Linked DNA regions of Homo sapiens: region 1 is linked to region 2. The links come from fine-mapping of genetic effects on gene expression. Tissue or cell type: whole blood. Region 2 holds a variant in brackets; the other region holds the start of a gene. All regions are shown on one strand. Distances are between the middles of the regions.

Evidence for each region.
Region 1: it holds the start of DOCK5, and the variant in region 2 is fine-mapped to the expression of DOCK5 in whole blood (TOPMed, PIP above 0.99).

The regions. Positions count from the first base shown.
Region 1 is chr8:25,176,308-25,191,339 of GRCh38, reverse strand. DOCK5 (dedicator of cytokinesis 5) reads right to left here and starts at 6,651. Exons shown (of 52, transcript NM_024940.8): 1 at 6,389-6,651. The coding sequence starts at 6,431. LOC124901912 (a long non-coding RNA gene) reads left to right here and starts at 6,963. Exons shown (of 2, transcript XR_007060861.1): 1 at 6,963-10,523; 2 at 11,296-13,559. RefSeq lists silencers at 6,354-6,403, 6,574-6,743, 6,754-6,833.
Region 2 is chr8:25,198,619-25,213,650 of GRCh38, reverse strand. All of the region lies in intron 1 of DOCK5 (dedicator of cytokinesis 5), which reads right to left. Among named protein-coding and RNA genes, the nearest start is that of DOCK5, 21 kb to the right of the region's middle. RefSeq lists a silencer at 14,528-14,617 and an enhancer at 14,770-15,032. The variant A/G (reference allele first, on the strand shown) is at 7,327.

The sequences.
Region 1 (15,032 bases), 22 kb after region 2:
ACTTCACTATAGGCAGCTGGGTCTTTATAGCTGCCCCTGCATTCCATCGGTGGCCATATCGCACTTTGCAAAGCCTCTGGAAAACTCCACTAACGAGAGAATGAGAATGTAAACAGGCCAATAACGGCTTAGCATTATTGCAAAAAGAAAGTTTTAATTTCATGGACCCCCCCCATTCTGAACGTGTCTCCAAGACCCCACATGTCCCTGGAACATACTAAAATAAAGGGTTCAGAATGGTACCTCACAAGAGAAGTTCTCAATGAATACTAATTCTCTCTTCCTTTTGTTCTTAGCCTCAATGCTGTTAAAACATGACCAAGTTCAGGAGATCAAGACCATCCTGGCTAACACGGTGAAACCCTGTCTCTACTAAAAAATACAAAAAATTAGCCTGGCGCAGTGGCGGGCGCCTGTAGTCACAGCTATGCGGGAGGCTGAGGCAGGAGAATGGCGTGAACCCGGGAGGCGGAGCTTGCAGTGAGCCGAGATCGCGCCACTGCACTCCACCCTGGGCGACAGAGCAAGACTCCGTCTCAAAAAAAAAAAAAAAAAAAAAAAAACCCATGACCAAGTTAAGGCCAGGCCTTCTTCGGGTCATTATAATTATATAATATCCGGTACAGTGTTATGTGCAAAGAGGTGGTCAACAAGTATCACTGTCTTGCTCAGATGGCACTGTAACTAATTAGCTATGTGATCCTCAGCCAAGGATACTTAATCTGTTAAATCCAGAGGATCCACGAACTTGAACAAGAAAAAAGTTACATCTCTATTTTCTGACATTCAGCACTCACTTTAATTACGACTGTAGCCAATAAACCGCAATTGCACTACTAGCGCCTGTGATACTGTCACCAATAAAACAGGGATTTTTATATCATAGTATGGTTACTGCAGATATCTTGAAAAATCATATATGCTCGTGACTAATTCAAAATTATGCTAGTTATTAGACCTGTCACTAGATCTTGGTACTTTATGCATTAATAAAGAAGTACATATACTGCAGTATCACGAACTTTGAAAAACACCTTCACGGCCTATTTCAATACGGCTGTTTTCATTTTCTATCCTTTGTAATTTACTTAATTTTTATTTCTACAGTGACTTGGAACTTTGTATCGTACTTTATGCATTTAAAAACATTCTGGGCCAGGAGCGGTGGCTCACGCCTGTAATCCCAGCACTTTGGGAGGCCAAGGCGGGCACATCACATGAAGTCAGGAGTTCCAGACCAGCCTGACCAACATGGTGAAACCCCGTCTCTACTAAAAATACAAAAACTGGCCGGGCGTGGTGGCGTGCGCCTGTAATCTCAGCTACTCAGGAGGCTGAGGCAGGAGAATCGCTTGAACCCAGGAGGCAGAGGTTGCAGTGAGCCAAGATTGCACCACTGCACTCCAGCCTGGGCGACAGAGCAAGACTCCATCTCAAAATACAAACAAATAAGCAAACAAAAACACAACAAAAGCCCAAGTCTGAAGTCAGTCTTAAATCAGCATTCAAAGCTCTACTCCGTTAAGTCAGATGCTTCTAAACAACTAAAGAGCTTTAAACAAGTAAACACCTGAAGAGCTAACTAGTAATATTTCCCAAAACTGCCTTTTGTTACATCATAAAAATATATGTGATCACAAATCCCAACATGCAACAATGAGCTACTTTTCAAAGAATAAGGCTGGGTGTGGTGGCTCATGCCTGTAATCCCAGCACTTTGGGAGGCTGAGGCAGAAGGACTGCTTGAGCCTAGGAGTTCCAGACCAGCCTGGGCAACATGGTGAAACTCCATCCCTACAAAAAATACAAAAATCAACTGGTTGTGGTGGCACGCACCTGTAGCTCTCAGCTCTCAGCGGGCTGAGGCTGGAGGGTCACTTGAGCCCAGGAAGTTGAGGCAGCAGTGAGCCATGATTTTGCCACTGCACTCTATCCTGGGTTACAGAACGAGACCCTGTCTCAGAAGAAAAGAAAAAAAAATCAGCCAGGCTCATGGCTCACCCCTGTAATCCTAGCAACATGGGAGGCTTAAGGCTGAAGGAGCACACGAGGCCAAGAGTTCCAGATCAGCCTGGACAATATAGAAAGACTCCATCTTTAAAATGATTATTTTAAAAGTTTAATATTTTAAAACTTAAAAAATCAAAAAACTTAAGCCAGGCATGGTGGTGCACACCTGCAGTTCCAGCAACTTGGAAGGCTGAGATGGCAGGTTGCAGTGAGCTATGATCATACTGTACTCTAGTCTGGGCTGTGGAGTGAGGCCCTGTCTCAAAAAAAAAAAAAAAAAAAAGAAAGAAAGAAAGAAAAGAAAAGAAAAAAAAGCTTTGCAAAGAATCCATAGTCAACCTAATCTGGGGCTATTCTTTACATAATGGCTTGTGTGGAAGCAAACTTAAAAATAAATGTTTTTATAATCAGACTATTCTGGATATTTATCACTAATGTTTGCTTAAAAGTGTTTTATATCTTCATATGCTCAAACAGAAAAAAGAGAGAGAAAAGAGAAACAAAGAAAGAAAAAAGATGAGAAAAAAGCACATTTTCCACGTCTCCAGGGAAGAACACTTAGCCACTGAGCACTTAACACTGGGGTACTAGAGCACCATAAGTTTAAAGAATCAAATAGATCAGTCACTTCACTTGATAACACACAGAAACCATTGAGATCCACTTAATGCTAGAGCCTGAGCCAACACTGCTGTTTAAGAACTAAGAAAGCCCAGACAGGCTGCATTTCAGTCCCTGTAGAAACATCTAGGATATGTCAGGAACAGCCAAGAGTGGCACCAAGATAAAATATGACAGTAGCGACTGCCAGCTTCAGCAGGCACAATTCATACTGAGTCCAAAGCTCTATCCTCACACAGACTAGCTCTGCAGAGGCACACTCCTCTTAGAGCACAACAGGCAAAGTCATAGCTAGCTCTGAGTCATCCAAATGCTTCAACATGACTATCCTACGGTTCCTTCATCCAGAAACCAAATCTGACCAGTACACACTTAGAGAAGTCCAGAAAGCCAATTTTCCCAACTATATTTAAGAAAGTCTGTCTGCTCCATGCTTCCTTGTTTTCTCAGCAGAATATCTCATTCTCTTACTTGCAGAGATAAAGACAGAGTGGAGGCTCTCCCTTCCTCCATCTAACCAAACAAAATTCAACTCATATTGGGGTGAATGAGATGTTATGCCTAATGGGAAGAAAAAGAAGAGGAAAAAACTGCATTCAATTACCAGACAAGCTAGGTTAGTGTACTTTAGAACGGCACCCCAACATCAAGGACAAGCAAACTGAATGCACTAATACCTGGTACACCTGTTGAGTGCTAGGAATACAAAACCACAATGGTCTGATTCACTGAACCCAAGGATGGCACAGTCCAGGAACTGCGAGGAAGAAGCAAGGAGGTTTGGGACAGTCTGACAAATAGCAAATTTGAAGAAGGGAGTAGGAATGGATTTGAGCCCTCAAGGAAAGGTGAGCTGTCTGAGGCAGAGTTGGGAGGGCACTCCTGGCAGGGACAGGCACAATGGGAGCAAAGTCCCAAAGGAGGGACTCTGCAGGGTATGTTGCACAACAGTGGGAAGGGCAGTTGGTCTGCATTGGAGAGCTAGTGAAAGAAGCCTCGAGAGATAATGCTGAAGATAGGCTGAACCAGATTATAGGAACCTTGGAACGGAGGCTCAGACTTTATCCTGTTGACCACGAGAGACTTCCAAGCAGGGAGGTGACATAAACATAAGCAAGGAGGTGACAAAAACAATGAGTTTTAGCAATAAGCAATGGAGATTTCTCTCTTCAGTTAATTTATCCCAACTGTGGGTCCTTTTGTCAAACCCAGACAAACCAGAATCTATGTCTGGTGAAATAAGTGTTCAGAATTATATCCTGGAGCAGTTTCCCTAACACCTAGGCCCTGGAAATGCAATCCAAATATTTTACACACACACACACACACACACACACACACACAATTTCCACCCATATTTCCATATACATATATATATACACACACACACATATACGCATATATACATATATATGTATATACATATATACATATATGTGTGTGTATACGTGTGTGTGTGTGTGTATATATATATATACGTATATATATGTATATATAGTTTTTTTTTTGAGATCGGGTCTCACAGTATCACCCAGGCTGGAGTGCAGTGTCGTGATGGGGGCTCGGTGCACCCTCAACCTCCCAGGCTCAAGCTATCCTCCCACCTCAGCCTCCTCAGTAGCTAGAACCACAGGCACAGGCGACCATGCCCGGCTAAATTTTTTTCGTATTTATTGTAAAGACCCGTTTGCCATGTTGCTATGCTAGTTTTGAACTCCTGGGCTCAAGCAATCCTCCTGCCTCTGCCACCCAAATTGTTGGGATTACAGACGTGAGCCATCGCACCTGGCCCAAATATTTTTCTTGACTGATAAGTGACACAGTAAACTGACTCCAGAACATAAAAACAAAATATTAAAAACAATTATACTTGCTCCTAGGACTATGGCAATAAAAACCACATTTTTGAAACATGTTTGCATTAATTACCCTCAACTGAATAGTTTTGAAAAGAGCTTTTAATCCTGATAAAATTAGAGTTGATAACATTTCTGTAGTGATTGGGCATTGTAAATATGCTTTCATCTAGGGGCCAGGTGAGGTGGCTCATGACTGTAATCCCAACACTTTGGGAGGCCGAGGCAGGCGGATCACCTGAGGTCAGGAGTTTGAGACCAGCCTGGCCCAGATGGCGAAACCTGGTTTCTACTAAAAATACAAAAATTAGTCAGGTGTAGTGATGCAAGCCCGTAATCCCAGCTACTCGGGGAGGGGGGCTGAGACAGGAGAATTGCTGGAACCTAGAGGTGGAGCTTGCAGTGAGCCGAGATTGCGCCACTGCACTCCGGCCTGGGCGACAGAGTGAGACTCCCTCGTCAGTCCGTCTCAAAAACAAACAAACCAAAAAAAAAAAAAAAAAGAGCCCTGAGGCAGAAGCAACATCTCTACCCATTTCTGAGATGCAGCTAAGGGAGAGACTAAGATTCTAAAAGCAACTTAAGAGCAAAAAAGAAAATGTCTTTTGAATTGAGGGAAAACAAAAAATAATAAATATATAAAGGATCACAACCTAAGAATAATATAGTAAATATGAGACTGTTAAAAAACAAAACAAACAACAACAAAAAACCCTGACTCCTGGCTACAGAGTTGAAAAGCCCCTAGACACGTTGAGTAGCTCTTAATTGAGACTGCACTTCATTAACCAGTGAGGTGAGGAAAAACAGGACCTCAGTAAGGGAGTAAAGTCAAAGACTAAATTACAAACAGGCCAAATGAATGGATCTGAGAGGAAGTGATAAAATTCGCAACACACTCAGCCGTGTTTATTGTAGGGAATCACCCCAGGTCTAACTGCCATTGTAATCACCCCGTTCAGGGCAGAAGTCTTCCCACAGGCCCTCAATAACTTCAATCCTTGATAAAAAGCCAAAGGAGCCTGACTTTCCACCTGGGTCAAAATCCCCGCACATCTATTGTTTCGGAGCCAAAGCACCACCACCAGCAACCCCTGCGCACAACCCGGGGCTCTCCAGCACCGCTGTTCTGAATGCCAAGTGCCCAGCACGGGGTCTGGCACAGTTTCCTTAATAAAATGTCCTCTTCTCGTCTCCAGGATGAAACTCAGGATCCGGAAGGCAGCCTTACACCCTCTCCAGACAGGCTCCGTTAGGGGATGAGTGCGCACAAACAGCCCCAGGGGCCAGCCACCCCCTTCCCGTGCCACAACTTCCTGTCCCTTCCATCACTTCCACGCCACGACTCTAGTTTCCATCCAGCTCACAACTGTCATCAAGATCCCAGTCTCTGGAGGAAAGGGGGCAGGGCGGCTTTCCACCCTCAACTCCTCACTTAAGGGGCGTCTGAGAAGAACCTACGAAAGCGGGGGGCAGAAAGCACTGGGACAATGAGCACCAGTCCATGTGCCGACCCGGGCTGGTCACCTACTCCCAGGTGAAACCCACGCTGGGCGCACCGGGGCGAGCCACAGAGCTGCGGCCCCAAAAGAGCAGCAGGCGCGCCCCCCTCGCGTTGACATTTCCCTGGTGTGAAGTGCCGGAGATTGGGATGCAAGAGCGGGATTACGGTCCCGAAGCTCAGCTGCACTTGGAAGCACTCGGAGTCCCCAAACCCTGGGCGACTTCCCCATCGGCGCTCCCTGGAGAGGACTCCTACCGTCCCCGGCTCCCAGAGCTGCGCAGCCGGGCCGAGCCCCCGGCCAGGGTCCTCCGCCGGGCTCTGCGCAAACCTGGCAGGGCCGCTGTCCGCGAACTTGGCCGCGTGGGTCGGGCCGGGACAAGGTGGGGCGCGCACTCACCAACCCCGTACTTCTGCCTCTTGGTCGGGATCCAGCGGGCCATGGCGGCGACCTCGCCCCGCGGCGGCGGCGACTAAGGCTGCTACAGCTCCTCGGGCTCCGGCCGCCGCCGCCCCGCGCTCCTGCGTGCCCCAGACGCTTCCGCCATGTTCCGCCAAACTTCGCTGGACTCCGCGGGCCGCCTCCTCGCCGCGCCGCCCGCGCCCGTGCCCGTGCCCGCGCCGCCCGCGGTCACCTGCTGGGCCGGGCTGCAGCGCAGCAGTGCGCGCCCCTCCTGGCGCCGCCCCAGTCCCTCCCGCCGGCCGCACCCTCCGCCCGCCGGGGCCGCCTCCGAGCCGCGGGCGCCCGGCCTCTCCCGCCCGCGCCGCTCTCTGCGCTCTGCCGGGCGGGGGCCGACTGCGGCTCCGCCTCGCGCGCTTCCCTGGAGCGGCTTCCTGGGCCGGCGGGACTTTGACGCTGGCGGCACTTTGCCTTTCTCCCGCCCTCCCCACCCGGCTGATACCCCGGAGGCTGGGTCCCGGGGGTCCGGCTCCCGACAGAGGGCTGCGCTGGAGGAGCCGGGCACGCCCAGGCCGGGCGGCCGGTGGGCGAGGGATGCGGGCTGCGCTCCCACGGCGCGCGCCGGACACTTGGGGAGCGGAAACGGATCAGCGAGAGCGGCTTCTTGCTCGGGGCACCTCCGGTGCCTGGCACTAAGCGGGCGCGCAATAAATATTTGTTGAATGAATGAGCAGTTGACTTCTGCCTTCACCCCCTGGAGCTTGAACCCGCGCCGCGAGCGGGAGAAGCCGGACTCAGGGCAGACTGAATCTCCCGGGGCCACCGCTTAGAGCCTGGAAAGCAGAACTTTTATCACCGGAGAGCTGGTGCAAGGGAGGTGGGCTCCTCAGAAGTATCAGACCGTTTGCTAGGGGATCCTCTGCAGGGAAATTGTTTAGAAAGCCCTAATTTGGAAGTCCTGTATCCCCAAACTCCGGGGACCCCCCAACCTTAAGCTGAAGAAACTTAGACCCTCATGCCCAGACCTCCCTTTCCCAACCAGCCAGCAGCCCAGAGAGCATTCCCGTGGAGAAAGGGCCAAGGCGCATCCCCGTCTTTTCTCCGTCAACGACTGCCTTTTCTTGACGAAGATCCCAAAGGGGCTGCGCATTTGAACCGCCTTGGGCTCCAGGTGGCGCCCTCTCTGGAGCTCCCCTCTTGGAATTCATTTCTTCCTGGAGAGACTTGGAGAATGAAGATCCAGGGGTTTCTCCCTACCTTGTACCGAGAAGTAACATTGCAAGTAGAGTAAATGACCAGCTTAATTACGTTCACCTTCGAAGAAGATTCCTCTAGAGAGAAATTATATCCTCCTTGCAGCCTGTGAAGGTTTTCATGCGTTTTAGGAATATAAAAGAAAGGAAGACAAACATGTAGTAAAGATAGTAAAGACAGGTAGTTGGCCAGGCGTGGTGGCTCATGCCTGTAATCTCAGCACTTTGGGAGGCCGAGGCGGGTGGATCACCTGAGGTCACGAGTTCCAGACCAGCCTGGCCAACATGGTGAAACCCCTTCTCTACTAAAATACAAAAGTTAGCCAGACGTGCTGGTGTGCTCATGTAATCCCAGCTACCCAGGAGGCTGAGGCAGGAGAATCGCTGGAACCCGGGAGGCAGAGGCTATAAGTGAGCCGAGATCGCGCCACTGCACTCCAGCCTGGGCAACAGGGCAAAACTCCGTCTAAAAAAAAAAAAAAAAAAAAAAGACAGTAAAGATAGATAGGCAAACAAGGTAACAAGATAGTAAAGTTTCATTGGAGAATTAGTGCATTTTAACTTTGGTGGTTTTTTACCAAACGAGGTCTGAAATTTTTTTTAAGTCCTATTCACGGTGGGTAACTACTAGAGCTGGCTTTTTTTTTCTCCATCAACCAATAGGTATTTATTCACAATGTTTAACAATAATTTAAGAAATTCCTCTGTCACTTTAGACTTGACATCCAGAAAGAATTCCACCATCTTCCCTAAAATAATTTATCTTCCTCCATTAGTATATCATGATTCTAATTTCCCAGGTTAGGTAATTTCTTCTTCCTTCTTCACACACATATTAAATGCCTACACGTTAAGTGCCAGGCATCACTCTAAGAATGAGGGTGCAGCGGTGAATACAGTAGAATGTGTCCCTTCACAGAGCTTCTAGTCTAGACGGGGAGAGTAAGACAGTAAAGAAATGTACACCAAACGAGAGTAAACATTAGAGAAAAATCCAAAGCAGGGAGGATAGGGCGTGTAGGGTGCTGCTGTTTTTATGGAGTGGTCTGGGAATGCAGCTCTGCTAAGCTGAGGTTGAGGTGTAGACCTGAAGGAAGTGAAGATTCCGGGAGAAAGTATTCTGGAAAAGAGGAACAGCAAAGGCAAAGGACACCAAGCGTGTTTGGCAGGTTCCCAGGTCACCCAGAGATCCTAGGTAATGAGAGCTGAGTAACAGGTGAGAGGAAACTTGGTCTAAGAGGCAGAGGAATGCCAGATAGAGCAGAACCCTGGCAGGCATATGGACTTTATATATTACTACTACAAGCGAGGTTTGGAGGGCTTTGAGCCAACCTGGAACATATTGAACTTGCCTGCTGTGGTATGAATCCATTGTAAAGGGGCAAGGGAGGCCCACATGGATGGATGTTGGGGGCTATTTCAGTCATTCAGGCAAGACATGAAGGTAGTTGGGTCCAGGAGGATAAGGATGGAGGTGAAAAAGATGTTGGGTTCTTGACATACGTGAAAATAGAGCCTGGCCAGATGTGGTGGCTCACACCTGTAATCCCAGCATTTTGGGAGGCTGAGGTGGGAGGATTGCTTAAGGTCAGGAGTTCAAAATCAGCCTGGACAACATAGTGAGACCCTCCTCTACTATATATATATCCTGGGCATGGTGGCTGTGCCTGTGGCCCTATCTACTCAGGAGACTGAGGTGGGAGGATTGCTTGAGCCCAGGAGGTCGAGGCTAGCAGTGAGCTATGATTGCATCACAGCATGAAAAAGAACCAAGAGGAGGGCCACATGAACGGCAGGGGGATCTACTACTGTGAGGCTTCAATCTTTTTTGGAAAGTTTTCCCCCAGAAAGAGATATGCTTGTATTTTTCTTTTTTTTTTTAAAGAGCCCTACCCGTATCGTACACCCTTCAGGCCCCACACACCTTGGTTCTTGTCCCTGCATGTGAGATACAAGCTGGGTCAAGAATGACTCTAAAGCCAGCTAGGTCGCACATGCCTGTAGTCCCAGCTGCTAGGGAGGCTGAGGCAAGAGGATTGCTTGAGCCCAGGAGTTCCAGGCTGCAGTGAGCTATGCTGATCAGGTGTCTGCACTAAGTTCCGCATCAATATAGTGACATCCTGGGAGCAGGCGACCACCAGGTTGCCTAAGGAGGGGTGAACTGGTCCAGGTCAGAAATGGAGCGGGTCAATTATTTGGAAAGCCCTAATTTGGAAGTCCTATATCCCAAAACTTCGGTACTCCTCCTTAGCTGAAGAAATTCAGGCCCACATATCCAGGGGGAAATCTACCCCAAGACCTCCCTTTTCCAACCAGCCAGCAGCCCAGAGAGCATCCCTGTGTAGAAAGCAACTGGATGCATCCTTGTCTTTTCTCTGTCACTGACTGCATTATTGACAAAGATCCCGTAGCCGGGACTTCACATTTGAACTGCCTCAGGCTCCAGGTGGCACCCTCTCTTGAGCTCCCCTTCTGATCAATAATGGGATGGCACCTGTGAATTGGCACTGCATTTCAGCTTGGACAACATAGCAAGACCCTGTCTCTAAACAAATATTAATTCAAAACAAAAAGAGTGACTCTAAGGTTTGGGGCTTGAATAGCAAGGGAGTAGAGTTGCCATTGTCTTGGTCACCATTTATATCTATCTTGTCTTCACCCTTTCCTGTCCCAGTTGCTCTGTATCAAAGTTTTCCTTTCAATATTTCTTTAGGACCCACTTCTTCACGCCTTCCTCAGCAACTTCTCCATGTGGCCCCTTAGGAGCTAAAGCGCTCTGCACTGGATTATATGACTTGCCTGTTGTGGACTCAGGGCTTCTCAAAGTTACATGAATTCTCCGTGCTTAGGGAAATTGGATGACCTCTGTTCTCTGACCAAAGGTATATTTCAAATGTACCATACATCAGAATGTTAATGCTCTTATCCAGTGGAACTGGGTTTCTACCAAAGCGATTTCAACTGCCTCATCCCACTTTTGCATTGAAGTCTTCTTCTTCCAAAACTAGAGGTTTGAATTTGGGTGCCAGAGATTTCAAATTTGACAATGGCTTTAAGAGAGTTGGAGGAAAATGGAAAATTTTAATTACAGCTTTCAGTATGTTTATCATTTCCTTTTGAAAACTGAAATCCACTCACTTTGCTATATCAGATGGCTAAATCCTAGTGTGAATGTCCTTTTAAATCATAAAAGCAGAGCTTTTCAAAGTCTTTTATTAGAATGAGGCTTAAAATTAGACAGTTAACCAGACAGGCAGTTGGAATGACAGCGTGATGCCCAGAAATACCCTTTTTTTTTCCTCTGATATCTTTTCAGAAGAAACATTAAGCATATTCCACAGAGATCTTCAGACTCCAAAACCCACACAAATACAAACACACTTAAGCACGCACAGACACTCACAGGCTCTGCTTGAAGGAGCCATGGAGAAAGAAATGAGGGTAAGTGGCTTTGAGGGTTAGTTTGACATGAGTATTGTGACTAACCCTTACAATGCCTTAGAGAATAAATGGACAGGATGTGAAGAGAACTGGCAAGAGCCTCACCTCCCTGTTGATTACCAGGCTTGTTTTTGCCAAATCAGGCTGGTCTGATGGCTTCTCTATGAGATGCTGTGGAGTCGTTTAAAGTGTCTTTTTTCTCTCTCTCTCTAGATAAAAGAAGATTATTCTGTGATCCTATACGAGTCAGTGGCTAATGGAACTACCAAAAAAATGATAACAATGCAAATAATGTAATTGGTTCTAAGCAGTGCTTTGCAGGCTCCTAAGGATGGTTCTAAGTAAGCCAGGAGTAGGTGATACATTGTAATTCTGGGACCCATGAGCTTAGCAGGACAAAGGAAACCATGAATCACCCTAGTCCCAGAAGTACCTTTTCATAGGCCCCAGGGATTCCAACATCATTATTCACTCTCCACTCTGCAAGTGACTTAGGTCGTGAGCATCTCTGAGTCTGCACAGGCTCTGCCATGTGGCTGTGGGGGTCCGGCTTCTCTGATGGATGGGAAGATAATGCTCGGGGCTCCAATGCTATTATCTCCTCATCTCTGTCACAAGGAGATTTATACTTATGATTTACCCTTTTCATGAACATGGGAAAATTCTTTTTTCTAGTGTTGTTTCTGGAATGTTCTTTGCTGTGTCTAAATGAGCTGATTCCACTGTTGGGAGAGGTGGATGATGTGAGCAGTAAGAAGGCATTAGTTTCTTGAAAACTAGATCCATATTTAGGTGAGATGAAATCAAACTACCTGATTTTAAAAAAAACAAACTATGTTTATTTACCGTATGTCTTGATTCCTATATACATTGAAAAATTATATTCATAAAACTGTTTAAAATAAGAGATGATGGGCTGGACGCAGTGGCTCATGCCTGTAATCTCAGCACTTTGGGAGGCCAAGGCGGGCAGATCACTTGGGCCCAGGAGTTCGAGACCAGGCTGGGCAACACGGCAAAACCCTGTTTCTACAAAAAATGCAAAAATTACCAGGGTGTGGTGGTGTGTGTCTGTAGTATCAGCTACTCAGGAAGCTGAGGTAGGAGGATTCCTTGAGCCCAGGAGGTGGAGGTTACAGTGAGCTGATGTGGCACCATTGCATTCCAGCCTAGGTGACAGGGGGACCCTGTTCCCCCTGCCAAAAAAAAAAAAAAAAAAAAAAAAGAACAAAAAGAGAGATGATGAAAACTTAGAAGAAATGTGGAAAATGTATAATGTAGGCATAAATGAAAATAATTAGATTGTCTATGCCGCAAAATGATTGTAGCTATAGAAAGTCATAGATTTACAGGGAAAATGACCATAGAAGAACATGAATAAATGACAAATTTTATTCAACCTTCTTCAAAACAAAATAAAGAAAAATACTTGATTGCTGAAGTCTCTGGGCTATGTAGCAAGAGTAGGAAGTTATTTGCCTAAATCTGATCATTTTTTGTGACAAGAGTGAAGTTTCACTCTTCAGTTCCTTGGGCACACGGACACTATGACTATCTTGTTTAGACGACTGTCATATTCAGCAGATTTTTCTTCCTGTTTGTGGTCAGTTAAGAAAACAAGCATTTAATCCAGAACTTGTATTTAATACCAGAACGATTTTATTTTTTCACAGCCACCAACTGTAAAGTAACAATAATAACTGCGTATGAAGTAATGAGTACTGGCTCCAAATCACCTTGTTTAATCCCCATACAACCTAATGAGGTAAATATAACTCTCCGGTCATTCCCACCTCACAAATGTGGCTTAGGAGGTGTCCAGAAATTACCTACATAATTAATTAGTGGCAAAATAAAATCCAGACCCAGACAGCCTGACTCCAGGGTCCATGCTCTAAAGCAGAGGTCTGCAAGCTTTTGCTATAAAGGCCCCACTATGGATAGTTCCCAGGCTTTGCAGGCCATATGGCCTTGTTGCAACCACTCAACTCTGCAGTTGTAGCAGGGAAGCCTCTATGAGCAATACATACAATGAATTGAGTGTGGTTGTGTCCCAGTAAAACTTCATTAGTTGTGTTAGATCAAGTTTAGACTAAACCTGCCTCCTTACATATTTTAAGTTCAGCCTAAAGGTTTCTCTGTACATAGCGAACTATAATCTCAATGGAAGTGTAAACAGACCAAAACCTATTCTTGTGCCAATCACTGAGTTTTGGCCAATCAGAGGAGGCAAACTGTTAAAACTGTCTTCAAATAAGGTAAACGCCCAGCTGCTGAGCTGTAACCAATCCGCCTGTTTCTGTACCCCATTTCCGTTTTCTGTACCTCATTTCTGTTTTCTGTACATCACTTTCCTTCTTCTGTTATAAATCGTCTTCCACCACGTGGCTGCACTGGAGTTGCTGAGCCTACCCCGGCTCAGGAGGCTGCCTGATTCTCAAGTCGTTCTTTGCTCAATTAAAGTATGTTAAATTTAATTTGGCTATGGTCTTTCTTTTAACAGTAGATTTGAAATTTGAATTTCATGTATTTTTATGCATATGAAATATTATTCTGGCCAGGTGCAGTGGCTCACCCCTGTAATCCCAGCAGTTTGAATGGCCGAAGTGGGCAGATTGCTAAAGTCCAGGAGTTCAAGACCAGCCTGGGCAACATGAAGAAATCCTGTCACTACAAAAAACACAAAAATTAGATGTGTGTTGGCACACACATGTTGTTCCAGCTACTCAAGAGGCTGAGGTGAAAGGATCACTTGAGCCTGGGGAGGTTGACCTTGTAGTGAGCTGCGATTGTTGTGCCACTGCACTCTAGCCTGGGCGATAAGAGTGATACCTTATCTTAAAAAAAGGAAAGGAAAGAAAAGAAAAGGAAAGGAAAGAAAAGAAATATTATTGTTTATCCTTCTTTTGATGTTTTTCTTTATCATTTAAAAATGTAAAAAACATTCTTATCTTGGCCAGGCGTGGTGGCTCACCCCTGTAATGCCAGCACTTTGGGAGGCTGAGGCGGGCGGATCACGAGGTCAGAAGATCGAGACCATTCTGGCTAATATGGTGAAACCCCGTCTCTACTAAAAATACAAAAATTAGCTGTGTGTAATGGCATGTGCCTGTGGTCCCAGCTACTCAGGAGGCTGAGGCAGGAGAATGGCTTGAATCTGGGAGGCAGAGGTTGCCGTGAGCAGAGGTCACACCACTGCACTCCAGCCTGGTGACAGAGCGAGACTGTCTCAAAAAAAAAAAAAAAAATTCTTATCTTTATCTTATCTTTATCTTGCAGGCTGCGCAGGAGCAGGTGGTGAGGCAGAGTTGGCTCTTGGGCCTTAGTTTGCCAATCCCTGCTCTACACTATGACTGTCACCCCTTTAGGTGGGTGGGAAGGCTGGGGGCCTCCAGAAGGAGCAGCATAACTAAGGAAGCATGTGTGGTGCTTTCCCACTGGAAGTCTGTTTGCATAAGGATTTGTGAGAAGCCCTTGGAAAAAAAGTCATGGGAAGAGGAGGACTCCAATAGTAAAAGTTGCCATAGAAATCAGAGGATGGGGGCACTTCTGAGAGCAGTGAATATCGTGTGTTGGGGAATTGTCTACTGGCCTAGCCCTTTGAACTCTATTCCCAGTGATAAGAACTATAAATATAAAACTTGGCTGGTCACAATGGCTCATGCCTGTAATCCCAGCACTTTGGGAGACTGAGGCGGGAAGATTACCAGAGGTCAGGAGTTCGAGACCAGCCTGGCCAACATGGTGAAACCTCGTCTCTACTAAAAAGACAAGAATTAGCAGAGCATGGTGGCACACGCCTGTAGTTCCAGCTACTTGGGAGGCTGAGGCAGGAGAATCGCTTGAACATGGGAGGTGGAGGTTGCAGTGAGCGGAGACTGTACCGCTGCACTCCAGCCTGGGCGACAGAGTAAGAGTGTCTCAAAAAAAAATTTTGACTAAGCCCTGGT
Region 2 (15,032 bases):
CAAAGAAAGTTCATTCCTCCCTGAAGGCTATTTCAAAGACAGTTGCTAATTAAACCCTGATGTAGCATGAGGAAAATGAAAATGCCAGACCCTAAACAAGAGTAAAAACTAGGAAAACAAAAAAACAAACAAACAAAAAACACCAGGTCTCCAGTTTCTCAAACGTTAAAAGGCTTCAAAAAGGGGACACTACCAGACGCACACAAAGGAAAGGTTACAAATAGCTGCAGCAGCCAGAAGGGGGATGAAACCTAGAGATTATCAGCTTTTTTTTTTTTTTTTTTTTGCTACATTCATGTCTGTTTTCAGGAGGCTCCTGACTTTCCTGTGAAACAAAAATATCTGGGTGTGGGGAGAGCTTTGGACATCAGAGAGACCCCGGAGAAGTCACTGCGGCCCATCCTGGTGCCCATTCATTTGAGGCTGAGGCTGGAAACACGGAGACCTTCCCCGTTTCCTAGGTCTGGGCCTGACGCACAGGAAACTTCTCTCTTGATTAGACGCCCACTGAGCCCAAGGTTTAACTTTCCATCTTCCATTCCAACACACACGCCCTGCCACTCTACCGAGAGCCCAGTCACGGGGGCTTTTCCAACAAACTCGTCCACCCATGACCATTGTAGGCAACCTCCAAGACTCCGTTCACAGTGAACCTTGCCTTTTTCTGCAAACCCAGAAACTAGCCTTTAAATTGCTCAGGGAATATTCTCCAAACAGCAGATTCATCCTTATTCAGGGTTTTGGCAGTCAAAACTCAGGGGTCAATTAAGCCACGCCAAGCCCTCGTGCCTTAATCTATTTCCTGAGCATTTCCCTGCCATGGCTGGGGAGGGTAGAGGATGGTGTCAGCCCCATCTAGAATCACGCTGGCCTGACACAGACCTCCCTTGCTGAGGTTTTCCTCTAGTCCAGCATAAAGGGGTTTTCGACCCTCTCTCTTGCAAGCATCGAAATAAAATTATTCAGACACTCTCTAGCTACTTCAGATGAATTGGTCACAGTCACGTGACACATCTGGATATTTCCTTTCAAAACAGACTTCGCAAGTGAAATGGGATCCAGATGTTTTGAGCAGAGGTACATCCAGTCCCCTTCCTAGGTGGTACCCACATAATGAAGACTCAACATAATTTGACTTTTGTGTATACTTCTTATTTCCCCGACTAGAATGTAAGCTCTTTCAAGACCCCACATGAAACTTGCCCGTGGCCCTTAGCACACTGTTGGCCCACAGTTGGTCCTTAAAAGCTGCTCTAATTAAAGAAGCAATAAATAACACAGACAGTTCAAGTGTATCAAACACAAGCCAAAGTCAAGAACAAAATGTTTCCTGAACAAGGCTATACAGATGGATTTAGATTTGGAAAAATCTTGATCCTCTTGTTAATTAAGACTACTCATAAAGCAAACAACCAGATTTAAAAAAAAATAGCTAGCTATTTTGACCTGAATAGTTCTTTACATGGAAGCTGTCTTTTTTTTTTTTTTTTGAGACGGAGTCTCGCTCTGTCACCCAGGCTGGAAAACAGTGGCATAATCTCGGCTCACTGCAAACTCTGCCTCCCAGGTTCACGTCATTCTCCTGCCTCAGCCTCCAGAGTAGCTGGAACTACAGGTGCCCGCCACCATGCCTGGCTAATTTTTTTGTATTTTCAGTATAGACAGGGATTCACCGTGTTAGCCAATATGGTGTCGATCTCCTGACCTTGTGATCTGCCCATCTCGGCCTCCCAAAGTGCTGGGATTACAGGCATGAGCCACCGTGCCCGGCGGAAGCTGTATTTCTAAAAAATCTGCATGATAAACTACGTAGATAGCATTTATTAATTAATTAATTTATTTAGAGATAGGCTCTTGCTCTGTTGCCTAGGCTGGAGTGCAGCAGCATGATAGTAGCTCACTGTAGCCTTGACCTCCTGGGCTCAAGCGATCCTCCCGCCTCAGCCTCCAGAGTAGCTGGGACTACAGGTATGCACCACTGCACCAGACTAATTTTTTAATGTTTTTGCAGAGATGTGGTCTCTCTATGTTGCCTAGGCTGCTCTCAAACTCCTGGGCTCAAGTGATCCTTCCGCCTCAGCCTCCCAAAGTGTTGGGATTACAAGCATGAGCCACTGTGCCTGGCCACAGACAGCATTTTATATTTCAGAAATCGTAAACCTTCTTTAAGACGCAAGTCAAATGCTTGCCCATATTTTATTGAGCACTTACTAGGTGTGTGCCAGGCCCTGTGTGGAAAGCTTTCTAGGCACTCAAACAGTTTATCTATACAATGCTGTGGGAGGTTCTAATACCATCCCCAGTGCATGGGTGATAAAACTGGCGTAGTTGTTCCCTGGGGCCTTCCTGACCTCTCCAATAGATAGTACTCACTTCCTCTCCTGAAACTCTATTTGGCACTTTCTGTGCTTCTCTTATGAGACACAGCAATTCTCCCATGTGCACAAAATAATGGAGACACCATCCTGTCCCCTCTGCTGTACTGTAAGTTCCTTAAAGACAGGGATATCTGATTCCAATGGTACTCTGCAAAGCAGGCTATCCAGGTGCTGTTGACAGAAGGAGGTTTGAGGACCACTGTCTTATTAAAGCAGCCCATTGCTGGTAATGAACCAAGCCTATGAAATGAATGGGTGGCTTATCAATAACCATTATTATTAGATGTCATTTGAGTACAGATAATTGTGTTTCCAGTAGACAAAGAACTACCCCAACCTCAGCTCTGCCAGTCTCTCAACCTGTCTCCCACCTCTCCCTCCTCCCTTCCCCCTCCCCTCATTCAGCTCCAGGAACATTGGCACTTTCCACTGCTCCTTAACTGTGCCACATCTTCTGCCTAGAATGTTCTTACTTTAGATTTGCATGGCTCAGTCCCTCTTTTTTGTTTTGGAGACAGTCTTGATCTGTCGCCTAGGCTGGAGTGCAGTGGTGCCACCTCAGCTCACTGCAACCTCTGCCTCCCAGGCTCAAGCAATTCTCATGCCTCAGCCTCCCAAGTAGCTGGGATTACAGGCATGTGTCACCACACTTGGCTAATTTTTGTATTTTTCAGTAGAGATGGGGTTTCTCCATGTTGGGCAGGCTTGTCTTGAACTCTTGGCCTCAACTGATCCATCCACCTTGGCCTCCCAAAATGCTGGGATGACAGGTGTGAGCCACAGCGCCCGGTCCCAATCCCTCTTTTATTCACATCTTTTCCCACATATCCCCTCCACAGAGCCGTTATCTGACCATCCCAACTCGACAACAGCACCTCACCCCATCACTGTCTATGGCATCACTGTGCTTCATCAATATTTTCAAAGCCCTGATCACTGACATCATGCTATACATACTGTGCATTTGCTGTCTGTTTCTTCCCGCTTAGAATGCACACATCAAGAGGTTATAGAGGGCCAGATGCAGTGTCTCATGCCTGTAATCTCAGCACTTTGGGAGCCCAAGGCAGGAGGATCGCTTGAGGCCAAGAGTTCAAGACTAGCCTGGACAAAATAGCAAGGCCCCATCTCTACTCGATAGATAGATAGATAGATAGATAGATAGATAGATAGATAGATAGATAGATAGATAAATAGACAGATACACACACACACACACACACACACACACACACATTTATATATATATATATATATATATATAATTAGCCGGGGATGGTGGCATGTGCCTGTAGTCCCAGCAGCTCAAGAGACTGAGGGGGGAGGATCATGGCGCCACTGCACTCTAGGCAACAGAGCGAGGCTGAGACCCTGTCTCTAATGAAAAAGAAGTATGGTGTCTTTTGAGGAAAACACAGGAGGCTCCCATGTTGCTTGCGCCTTCTGCACGAAATGCTGGCAGGGCAGGCTTGCCTCTTGTTGAGAGTAGAAGTGAGAGCCCAGCTGACATTCTAGGTTCCTTCCAAGATCCAAAGTCTCAGAAAAATGCAATTGTAGAGATACAAAAAAAGTTCAGACATCATCTCATGCAAGACTTCTTCTTAAGCTGGGATCCTTGAGTCCCCAAAGATTTCTAAACTTCCTAAAGTTGTATGTGAAATGTCATCGACAGACATATGCACCATTTTCTGTGGAAAGAATCCACAGCTTTCATTACAGTCTCAAAGGAGCTTTATTTCTCAAAAAGTTAAAATCCTCTTGGCATCATCCTTCATTATAGATGAAGAAGCAACTTCTGGAAGGTCAAATAGCTGGTTAGTGGCAGAGTTTGAAGCAGAATTCACATGTGCTGATTTCTAAGCGGTCTCTTGCCTCCACCCCGCTCCCTCACAATGTTCGCTTATTGAAAGGAAGCATCCTTCCCTGGCACTGCCAGACTGGCATCCTGGACCACTGGGCTCCCAGAGTAGCGACCTCATTGTGTGTCTGCCTGAGCCTCGGGCAAGACCCGCCATGCATGACTTTCCCCTTCCTAACAATTTAATTATTCACGAACTTGCGTGTGGTGAGAACATCAGACAGGGATGACGGCGCTAATGTGCTCTGAGCCTCCTTCAAATGGCATTTCATACTAGAGCAGTGCACCCGCGGCATCTTCACAGACCCTCCCTCACCAGATGCCCTCAGCAGATAAAGAACTCATTTTCCTTTCCCTGCTGCTAATGGCTCCAATTTTCTTGTGATTTTCTGTAATGGTAAATGCCAACAAAACATCACCCCACCACATGTTCCTACTGGCTATTCTTTCAACATCATGAATTCCAAACCAGCTCTGCTGGAATGAAAAAGAATGAAAAAATAATATTCACAAGTCATTTGGGAGGAGTGCAGGGAGGGAGGGAAGGCAAAGAAATGAAGGTCATGGGCATATTTTAACCTCAATCAGAAGCAAGTGATTTGTCCTCTATTCTTAAGAAATTTGCTATATAGGCATACCTAGGAGATACTGTGGATTTGGTTCCAGACTGTGCAATAAAGCAAATATTGCAGTAAAGCCAATCACACAAATTTTTCGGTTCCCCTGTGCCTATAAAAGTTATGTTTACACTACAGTCAATTAAGTGTGTAATAGCATTATGTCTAAAAAATGTACAGACCTTAATTTGAAAATATTTTATTGCTAAAAAAATGCATATGATCATCTGAGCCTTCAAGGACTCTTAATTTTTTGGCTGGTGAAGGGTCTTGCTTTGATATTGATAGCAGCTCATGGATCAGGGTGGCAGTTGCTGAAGACTGGGGCAGCTGTGGCAATTTCTTAAAATAAGACAGCAATTAAGTTTGCCAGATCAATTGATACTTCCTTTCATGAAATATTTCTCTATAGCATGTGATGCTATTTGATAGCATTTCATAGTATTTCACCCACAGTATAACTTCTTTCAAATTTGGAGTCAATCCTCTCAAACCTTTCCACTGCTTTGTCAACAAGTTTATGGATTATTCTAAATCCTTGGTTGTCAACAATGTTCACAGCATCTTCACCAAGATAGAGTCCATCTCAAGAAACCACTTTCTTTGCTCATTCATAAAAAGTAACTCTTCTCTGCTCAAGTTTTATCAAGAGATTGCAGCAATTCTCACATCTTCAGGCTCCACTTCTAATTCTAGTGCTCTTGCTATTTCCACAACATCTGCAGGGACATCCTTCACTGAAGTTTTGAACCCCTCAAAGTCATCCATGAGAATTGGAATCAATTTCTTCCACACTCCTACTAATATTGATATTTTGACCTCCTCCCATGAAACATCAATATTCTTAGTGGCATTTAGAATGGGGAATCCTTTCCAGAAGGTTTTTAATGTACTACACCTAGAACCATCAGCGTAATCACTATTTATGGCAGCCACCATTTCATGAAATGTATTCTTTTAAATAATCAGACTTGAAAGTCAAAATTATCCCTTGATCCATGGGCTGCAGTATTCATGTTGTGTCAGCAGGCATGAAAACATTAATCTCCTTGTCCATCTCCATCTAAGCTCTTGGGTGACCTGGTGCATTGTCAATGGGCAGTAATATTTTGAATCAAGGAATCTTCTTTTTCTCAGCTGTAGGTCTCAACAGTAGGCTTAAAATAGTCAGTAAACCATGCTGTCAACAGATGTACTGTCATCCAGACTTTGCTGTTCCATTTATAGAGCACAGGCAGAGTAGATTTAGCATAATTGTTAAGGGCCCTCAGATTTTTCAGAATGGTGAAAGAGCACTGGTTTCAATTTAAAGTCACCAGCTGCATTAGCCCCTAACAAGAGGGTCAGCCTATCCTTTGATGCCCGTCACTGACTTCTCCTCTCTAGCTATGAAAGTACTAGACAGCATCTTCTTACAATAGAAGGCTATTTCATCTACACTTAAAATATGTTGTTAGTGTAGCCACTTTCATCAATATCTTCACTAGATCTTCTGGATAACTTGCCACAGCTTCTATATCAGCACTTGCTGCCTCACCTTGCACTTCTATGCTATGGCAATGGCTTCTTTTATTAAACTTCTTTCATCAAACTTCATGAACCATTGCTTTATTGATCGACCATGAATCTTATGGTCGATCAATAAAGTGATGTGCTATATAGAAGGAGGTATGTCTGCATTCATAGAAAGCTCTGCAAAGTACCCTGAGTTGCCACATAAACTTCTTCAGTGATGCCACGGTATTGCAAGGAACAGAGACTCACTCAAATTGCCTCAGAAAAGGGATGTTTTAGACCTGGACTTGGAAAGCTGCTAAGAACAGGGGCCACTCTAGGGCTGTAGGGTCTCTCCACATCTGCTCCCCTCTCTCTATCAATCAGCTTTTTCAGTTTCCTTGTGGTTTCCATTCACAACATTGGCTTCCACATGGCTTCAGGTTGCCACCAACTCAACTCCCAAACGACATCCTTTTAGCTTTTGCCCCTGTGGCAAAACATATTGGTATTTCCTCATTCAAATTCCCAAGAGAAGGAACCTGATTGAGTACTTACTTCTTTGCGTCAAACCATATGTCATTGTCCAGGCTACGGAATGGCCTCTAGGTAGTGTGTCCATCCAGGGACAATCAGTGATGGCCACAGGAATCTTAGATGGTGTAAAACGAGGCTACCTAGGCCTTCCCTGGGTCTTCTATCCAGGCTGTGGGCAGGCAGGTACTGTAACTATTTGTCATGTAGGAACTAGCCCAGGTTTTTCACAGAATACTGGAGCAAACTTGTACTAGTTTGGAAGGGCCAACTGTTACATTTTCAGGAATTTTCAGGAATTCTGTGAGCTATCTCTTAATCCACTGCTGGTCTGAAATTGGCCACTGTGGGAGTATTTACACCACAGATATTGGTGAATGCTACAAACTCAAGTTTTTTCCTCCCACTCTACAGAGCTAGTTTACCAGCACACTATTGCAGCATG[A/G]ATGGTTAAAGAGGAAGAAAAAAAATCAAGGTAAACAAGTCTCCCCATAATCTGACAAAATCTATATCATTTCCCTCTTTTCCACTTTACCCACCCTTTGCTTCAGCAAGAATGGACAACTTCCTCATTATCCACTTGCCACAAATAACTGCGTTAGGGCCAGGGCTCACGCTGTGCCAGGTCCCCAGCCTTCCCAAACCTGATGTCCATCTCTATAAAGTTCAACTACTTCCCTGAAGCTTCCTCAACTCCCTCAATTAGAATAATCTCTGCTTCTCTAAACTCCAATAACCCCAACTGGACTTTTTTTGCAACTTTTTTCATGTTCAGCCTTCCTTTCCCTGGAGTTATTTATGGCTTTATACTTGGGGTCTTTTAATTCATTATAAACTTCCCACAAACAGAATCTATGTCCACTTCTCTTAAGTGTTAGGAGAAGTATCAATTAAGTGTGCAATGGCATTATCTCTGAGTATTCCAAGTGCTAAGTGCATACCTCCTACTCAGATACCTGGTGAATCGGTGAAGATGAACACAGCATTTATTTGCACAAGTCTTCAGTAACCCATGTCTCTCTCCCCTTCCCACACCTACAATTCTAGACCTGCAAACTCATGAGTTCACCAGCTGATTTGGGCCCTGACAACTGAATCAGCAACAGCAGGATTTTCAAGGCCAGAAGGCTGCTAAAGGCATGTATCTGATGTGCATGTGAATTACTTTCACTAGATTCAAATCCCTGTAAAAGAGGAGGGAAAAATCTAGGATTAAACTACAGAGATTGAACTTTGATCTGGCAACAGTGGACTCGTATTTCAAATAACACGCAACTCCCTGTGTCTCAGTCAGCTTAGGCTGCCATAACAAAATACCACACACCATGTGGCTTAAATAACAGAAATGTGTTTTCTAACAGCTCTGGGGGCTGGAAGTCCAAGATCAAGTTACCATCATGGTCAGTTTCCGGTGAGGGCTCTCTTCCCGGCTTATAGGTGGCCACCCTCTCATTGTATCCTCACATAGCATAGAGAGAGAAAGAGAAAGACAGAAAGAGAGAGACAGAGGGAGAGAGAGTGAGAGACAGCAAGAGCGAGAGAGAGGGAGAGCGCTCTCCACATAAAAGAAGAGACCAGGCACAGGGGCTGACACCTGTAATCCAAGCATTTTGGGAGGCTGAGGTGGGAGGATTGCTTGAGGCCAGGAGTTCAAGACCAACCTGGCCAACATAATGAGACCCTGTCTGTACTTTAATTAACTTTTTAATAAAAGACATTTTTAAAAATAATTTTTTTTAAAAAAAGCACTAATCCCCTCATGAGGGCCCCACCATGAACTCATCTAAACCTAATTATCTCCCAGGACCCATCTCCAAATACCATCACACTAGGGGCTGAGGCTTCAACATAGGAATTTGTGAGGGACATAATTCAGTCCATAGCACTCTGTTAAAATCAATCTTCCTTTAAATACTTTGGGAAAGACGACTGAGAGATTTGGGGAAATCTGAGAAGTGGAAACCAGATGAAAAAGATCACAAGTTCAGCCTCAGGGAGAGAAAATTAGTTCTTCCTATTAACGTATGACTTAGCCAGTCTGAAGAGTATATGAAAGCCGCCAAGAAGTTAGAAGAAAGACTACTGGATTACCATCGGCATGTGAAGAAAATTTGGCCATAAAGTAATGGGGTTCTTTGCACCAAACCTTTGTAGACAAAGTTTCCTCAGTAAGTCTTCAGGCAGAAAGTTCAATGGCATGTCAACTTTAGATCCTAGCAGTTTTTAGTCCATTAATGTGGCCTAACAGGCATCGCTTAATTCATTTGCAGAAATTTTCAACAACTGAAAATTCATCACACTCTGAGAATCTAGAAGGTAATAGAAAATATTATCTCTGTTTTGCAGATGGAAAAACTAAGCTAAAGAGAGTCAAGCCACTTGGTCACTCCTGTAACAGAGACTGAAATACAAACCCAACTTCCTAATCCTGGGATCAATACTTCTGTTAGTTTCACTCCATGCACTATCCCCCAAAAACCTAAATGCCCCTAAAATTTTAAAAAATTTCTTGTATTAAAAAGTTAAAGTACAGACAGGGTCTCATTATGTTGTATCGACTATGAAGTCGATAATTCCTGAAGTTACTTCTATGAAGTCTATAATTCATCCAAACACATGCTATTAAAAAAATTGGCAAAGAATTCTCAGAACTGAGGCAGATAAATGAACATGGTATAAGTAACTATTTCTGCAAGAAAAACAAACAAACCCTCTAATCTTCCAAAAGTATAAAATCCTGTCACTCAAGGCTGCTGATAAAAGCAAGAAGATAAAGACATCTAAGACGAAAGAACACGTTTCATTTTAGATATTTCTATTTCCTCCATCTGTATTTGTTGAGGAGCAATTTTAGGAAGGCAGGATCACTGAGATGCTGTACTTTTCCTAAGGTTTTACAACTGTTAGCTAATGCCTCCACAACATGGGATTTTGTACCTCAAGTCCTAAAAGACATTAAACCAAAAGTAAAGAGAGGCGAAAAAAGGCAAATAAAAGAAAAAATCACTATGTCCATATGTCCTCCCTGACAGATTCCAATCTGATCTTTAAAATTGAGTCTTTTGGGCCACAAATGAGAGGCTCTCTCTTTTCCTGGTCTAAAATCTATCCCCATGCCACCACATTGTATCAGAATCGAAATGTCACCAGAGGAGAGTGATACAGGGTTTGCTTCACGGAGTGAGCTATTTGTTTTTGAAATAAGTCATGTTGTCAGAATCGGAACTGAGCAAGTATACCCATTTCTCATTCAGGAAAGAAAATATAAGACGGATTCAAAATTTCCAAGGCTCTTGGCTTAGATCACAGCTCAAACATGAAAAGAATTCTTCTGTAGCCTCAAACTATTTCTGAATTTGTGAGCTTACCAGTGGACCTCCCTGAAGCTATCAAACAATTTGAAAACAATCTTGAGCAGCAAATCTAATTCCGCCAAAGATAAACTGGATGCCACCCTCTGCCAAGCCATGTAAGGATCTTCTGAAAAATGACTCCAGTATATTCTATATGCAAGCAACTCTTTAATTCAAGAAGACATCAGCCTTCTTTGAGGCAGGCTTTCAGGCACATAAGATAGTCATTCAGGATTCTGTCATCAGTGGATTCCTATCCTCATATTCTATGATGATCTGGGTGTTAAGACCAGAAATGGCTGGCCAAGAGCTACTGGTCACACATCCATGAATTCATGACACTGGAGATGTATTTGGTAGCACTCTTATCAAGCTAAAGAAAAGGAAAGCAGCCATTATGAATCCCTGCCTACTGCTTCTATGTGTGTTTCTATAGACTCTTTATCTTACACAGTAGTCTCCTAGTGTCCCCTGTGTCACCTTCTGTGGCTTCAGGTACTCAAGGTCCAAAAATATTAAATAAAAAAATTCAAAAACAAACTGCCGGGGTATTGCAGTGCTGGTGTTCAAGTCACCCTTATTTTACTTAATCATGGCCCCAAAGTGCAAGAGTGGTAATACTGGCATATTGTGTTGATTGTTCTTTTTTATTATTAGTTATTGTTGATAACCTCTTACTGTGCCTAATTTAGAAATTCAGCTTTATCATAAATATATTTGTATAGAAGCAGCATTGTATATACAAGCTTGGGTACTATCCGTGGTTTCAAGCATGCCTTGAGGATAAGGCGGGACTACTGTGTGATCCTCACCACCATCCAGCCCAGCAAGACCCTGGAACATAAAAGGTGCTCAGTGAACATGGGCTTCCTCAGAACAGTGAGGTGGGTTAGCCACAGTAAGGGGATTCACACGCAAGGTGGCGTGACTCAAAACATTTCCGTTAGTTTGTTGTGTGTGAATTCATTCATTCATCCATTCCTCTTAGGATTCCAGGCTGTTCTAAGCCAGTGAGTGAGTACCACCCCAAAAGCACAGGATCAGAAGAAAGTAACAGTCCCATCACCCAGAGATCCCTGGGAATTCAAATATTTTCCAGGGGTGGGTGCGGTGGCTCACACCTGTAATGCCAACAGTTTGGGAGGCCGAGGCAGGTGGATCGCTTGAGGACAGGAGTTCGAGACCAGCCTGGCCAACATGGCAAAACCCTATCTCTTCTAAAAATACAAAAATTAGCTGGGGGTGGTGGTGCATGCCTGTAGTCACAGCTACTTGGGGAGGCTGAGGCAGGAGAATCGCGTGAACCCGGGAGGCAGAGATTGCAGTGAGCCACGATTGTGCCACTGCGCTCCAGCCTGGGTGACAGAGCGAGACTCTGTCTCAAAGAGAAGAAAAAAATATATATATATATGTTTTTTTCCCAGGAAGATTCTTGCAAGATAAGGCCATTTCTGGCCATAAGGCTCTAAAATCAAAAATATACTCAAATCTATTCTGAACTTTGAGGACAGGTTCTGAGCCAACCAGTATTAACTACTTGGTAATCAGCCCCACTCTGCAAACAAAGGCACCTGATTGCCAGGCTAGGGTACTGTCAGGGAGGCTGCGACTGAGCAAACTTTCAGATAGCTATCACGTACTGCCCACTGTACCAGGAAGTGTGCTAATCTTATTCCTTCCGTCTTACTTGACTTAGAGCCTTATATGACTTCACAAGGTAAAGAGTAATAAAAGTTAGGAGACTTGGACTTCAAAAATCCCAGCCACAAGCAACTACTCTCCAAAACCTCACTCTGCAGCCAATGGCTCTTGCATCCACCTTGACGATTCTGATTTCAAGCATGGCTTGGCTGCCCGGCTCCACAGCCTGCAGGACTAAAGGTAGTAATCAGCGTTCTAAAGTTAGCTTAACCTGTTGCCCTAAACAAGTCAACATCTGTATCTCAATCTTCTTCAGTAACTCAAACATATTTTTTAAAAGGCATGTAATGTTAGTGATACTGTTAGACTATAGAAATAATTGTATATAAATGTTCTCTTTCACTATTGAAATACTTTGTTTTATGTAATGCTACTAGTGTTTTGTATGTCATGGGACTAAATATTACCTTATCAAAATAATACAATTACATCATACTTTATTGTCTTCAAACAGAGAGAGGAGACGAAGCCTGAGGCTAATGGTTTATTCACCATGAAATAGCCATTTAGGCCGGCCACAGTGGCTCACGCCTGTAATCCCAGCATTTTGGGAGGCCGAGGTGGGCGGATCACCTGAGGTCAGGAGTTTGAGACCAGCCTGACCAAAATGGTGAAACCCTGTCTCTACTAAAAATTCAAAAATTAGCCGGGCATGGTGGCATGCACCTGTAATCCCAGCTACTCAGGAGGCTGAGGCAGAAGAATTGTTTGAACCCAGGAGGCGGAGGTTGCAGTGAGCCGAGATTGCACCACTGCACTCCAGCCTAAGTGACAAAGCAAGACTCCATCTCAAACAAAAAAAGAAGAAGAAGAAATAGCCATTTAGATCCTTAAACAACCAACAAATTAACACTACAATTAATAAGATGTAATTATACAAGTTTTAAAAAGTAGGATTATAAAGAGATGAGACCAGCACAGGCATGTTTTATTTTGCCCTTTATTGAAGTAAAATATTGGATTTGGTTTTTGTTGATTAACAAAGAGATGGTCATAAGTAACTAACTGAATGGCAGAAAGCAAAATGTATTAAATTACAGATGGTCTATTCTAAGGTAACAAAAATGTGCTCTTATGTTTTCTTCTAAGAGCTTCCACTGTTTTATCTTTCATACAGCTGGAATCAATTTTTTATGTGGTATTAGGTAGGGGTCCTGATACATTTTGTTCAGTATAGATAAACAAACGACTCAGTATCATTTTTTGAAAAGATCATCCTTCAACCACTACATGCCACTCTCACCTTTGTCAACACTTTATCTATCACTGCGTCAGAATCTTTTTAATGGCTATATAGTTTTCCATTGTATGCATGTGCTATAAATTACTAAATCCATCCCCAATTAGCCAACACTTGAGAGTTTCCATGTTTTTGGTATAAATAATGCTATAATGAATAACCTTGTCCATGTATTATTCCCCACATGTGGAGTATATTTGTAAGATAAACTCAGAGAAACGGAGTTGCTAAGTCAAAGGGTATGTGCATTTTTAATCAATACATGATAGAGGTTATACCAACTTTAATTGGAATTTTCAAGTCACAATGAACTCCAAAGTATTATGATAAGATACAGCACATTGCCATTTCAGTTACTCCAAAGTTCCCAACATTTTTGGCCCTTAGGATTCTTTTATAAAAGACATCAAATGTATAACAATGCTTCCAGTATCCACTGATTGAAAGTATATATAACCACATAAGTTCACAGAAAATGTGCCTCAGTATTCTGCAAAATGTAAATTAACAAATCTAAAACAAATCATGCAGTCACAATTGGATAGACAGGCCTTCTCTGCTTATGGTAAAGAACAAGGGCAACTTGCTGTTTACTTTTGTTCTGAAGGAAGTTCAAAGCTCAGCACCAGCACCAGCACCAGCACCTCTGGTTCCACGTGGGTAGATATTGCCCCATTTCAGGAGTTTGCTCCCGATGGAGAATGACAGTGATTGTCTCTGCATGAGAAGAGGCTGCATCTCCTCCTCCAGAGTAAAGCTGTCCACTCCCAGCAAAGAAAATAGAGCAGAAGTTGGTTGGGCGTGGTGGCTCACGCATGTAATCCCAACACTTTGGGAGGCCAAGGCGGGAGGATCACCTGAGGTCAGGAGTTCAAGACCAGCTTGGCCAACATGGTGAAACCCCGTCTCTACTAAAATACAAAAATTAGCCGGGTGTGGTGGCAAATGCTTATAATCCCAGCTACTAGGGAGGCTGAGGCAGGAGAATTGCTTGAACACAGGAGGTGGAGGTTGCAGTGAGCTGAGATGGTGCCACTGCACTCCAGCCTGGGCAACAAAGCAAGACTCCGTCTCACAAAAAAAAAAAAAAAAAAAGAACAGAGCGGAAATGGAAGCTGAGGGAGAAGGCGCTTACTCACTCAAACTTTTCCTAAGTCTTCAGAAGATGACATCACATTTTATTTGAAATACAGGTCTGAAAAAGTAGAAATGTTCTCTCACATCCAGGTTACTAACATAATCCTTTATTAGCAATACATGACCCTTTCTTCACCCCTTAAACGTTTACTTTGCAAAACACAGTGATGTTCATTCTCAAATATGCCTGTGATGTAGTAACAATGCCACATTACTTATTAATTTTGCAACTGATGTCATGTCAATACCACGGTGCTAAGGACTGAAACCACGTGAGAAGTCAGTGGCCAAACCGTGCAACCCACAGTGTCACTTCCACTTTGCAGGCTCAAACCTCCTCAAACACACTTCCTTCCTAGAACTCTTAAAAAAGGGAAGATATTTAACAGCCAAACCTTACTTATAACAAAACCTCCACCTGGAAAAAACCCAGGAGACACAGGCATCTTCCCCTTTGGATGGAGAGGGGAGAATTTACTCTTCCAACCTTAAGGAGATCTGATTAACAAACCCCTCTCCAGAGTTGTAAGTAAGGAGAAAGATAGACAGCAAGTTGAAACAAAAATTTGCTACTAGCTGTGTGACTTTTAGGTAAGTCATCTGATGTCTCTGGGGCTTTTTTTCTTCTGATAAAATGAGGGTGTTAGCCAAGAGGTAATACTTACAAACTCCGGCTCTTAATATCTTCTGATTCTACATACAAGAGGGCAAAACTGTTAG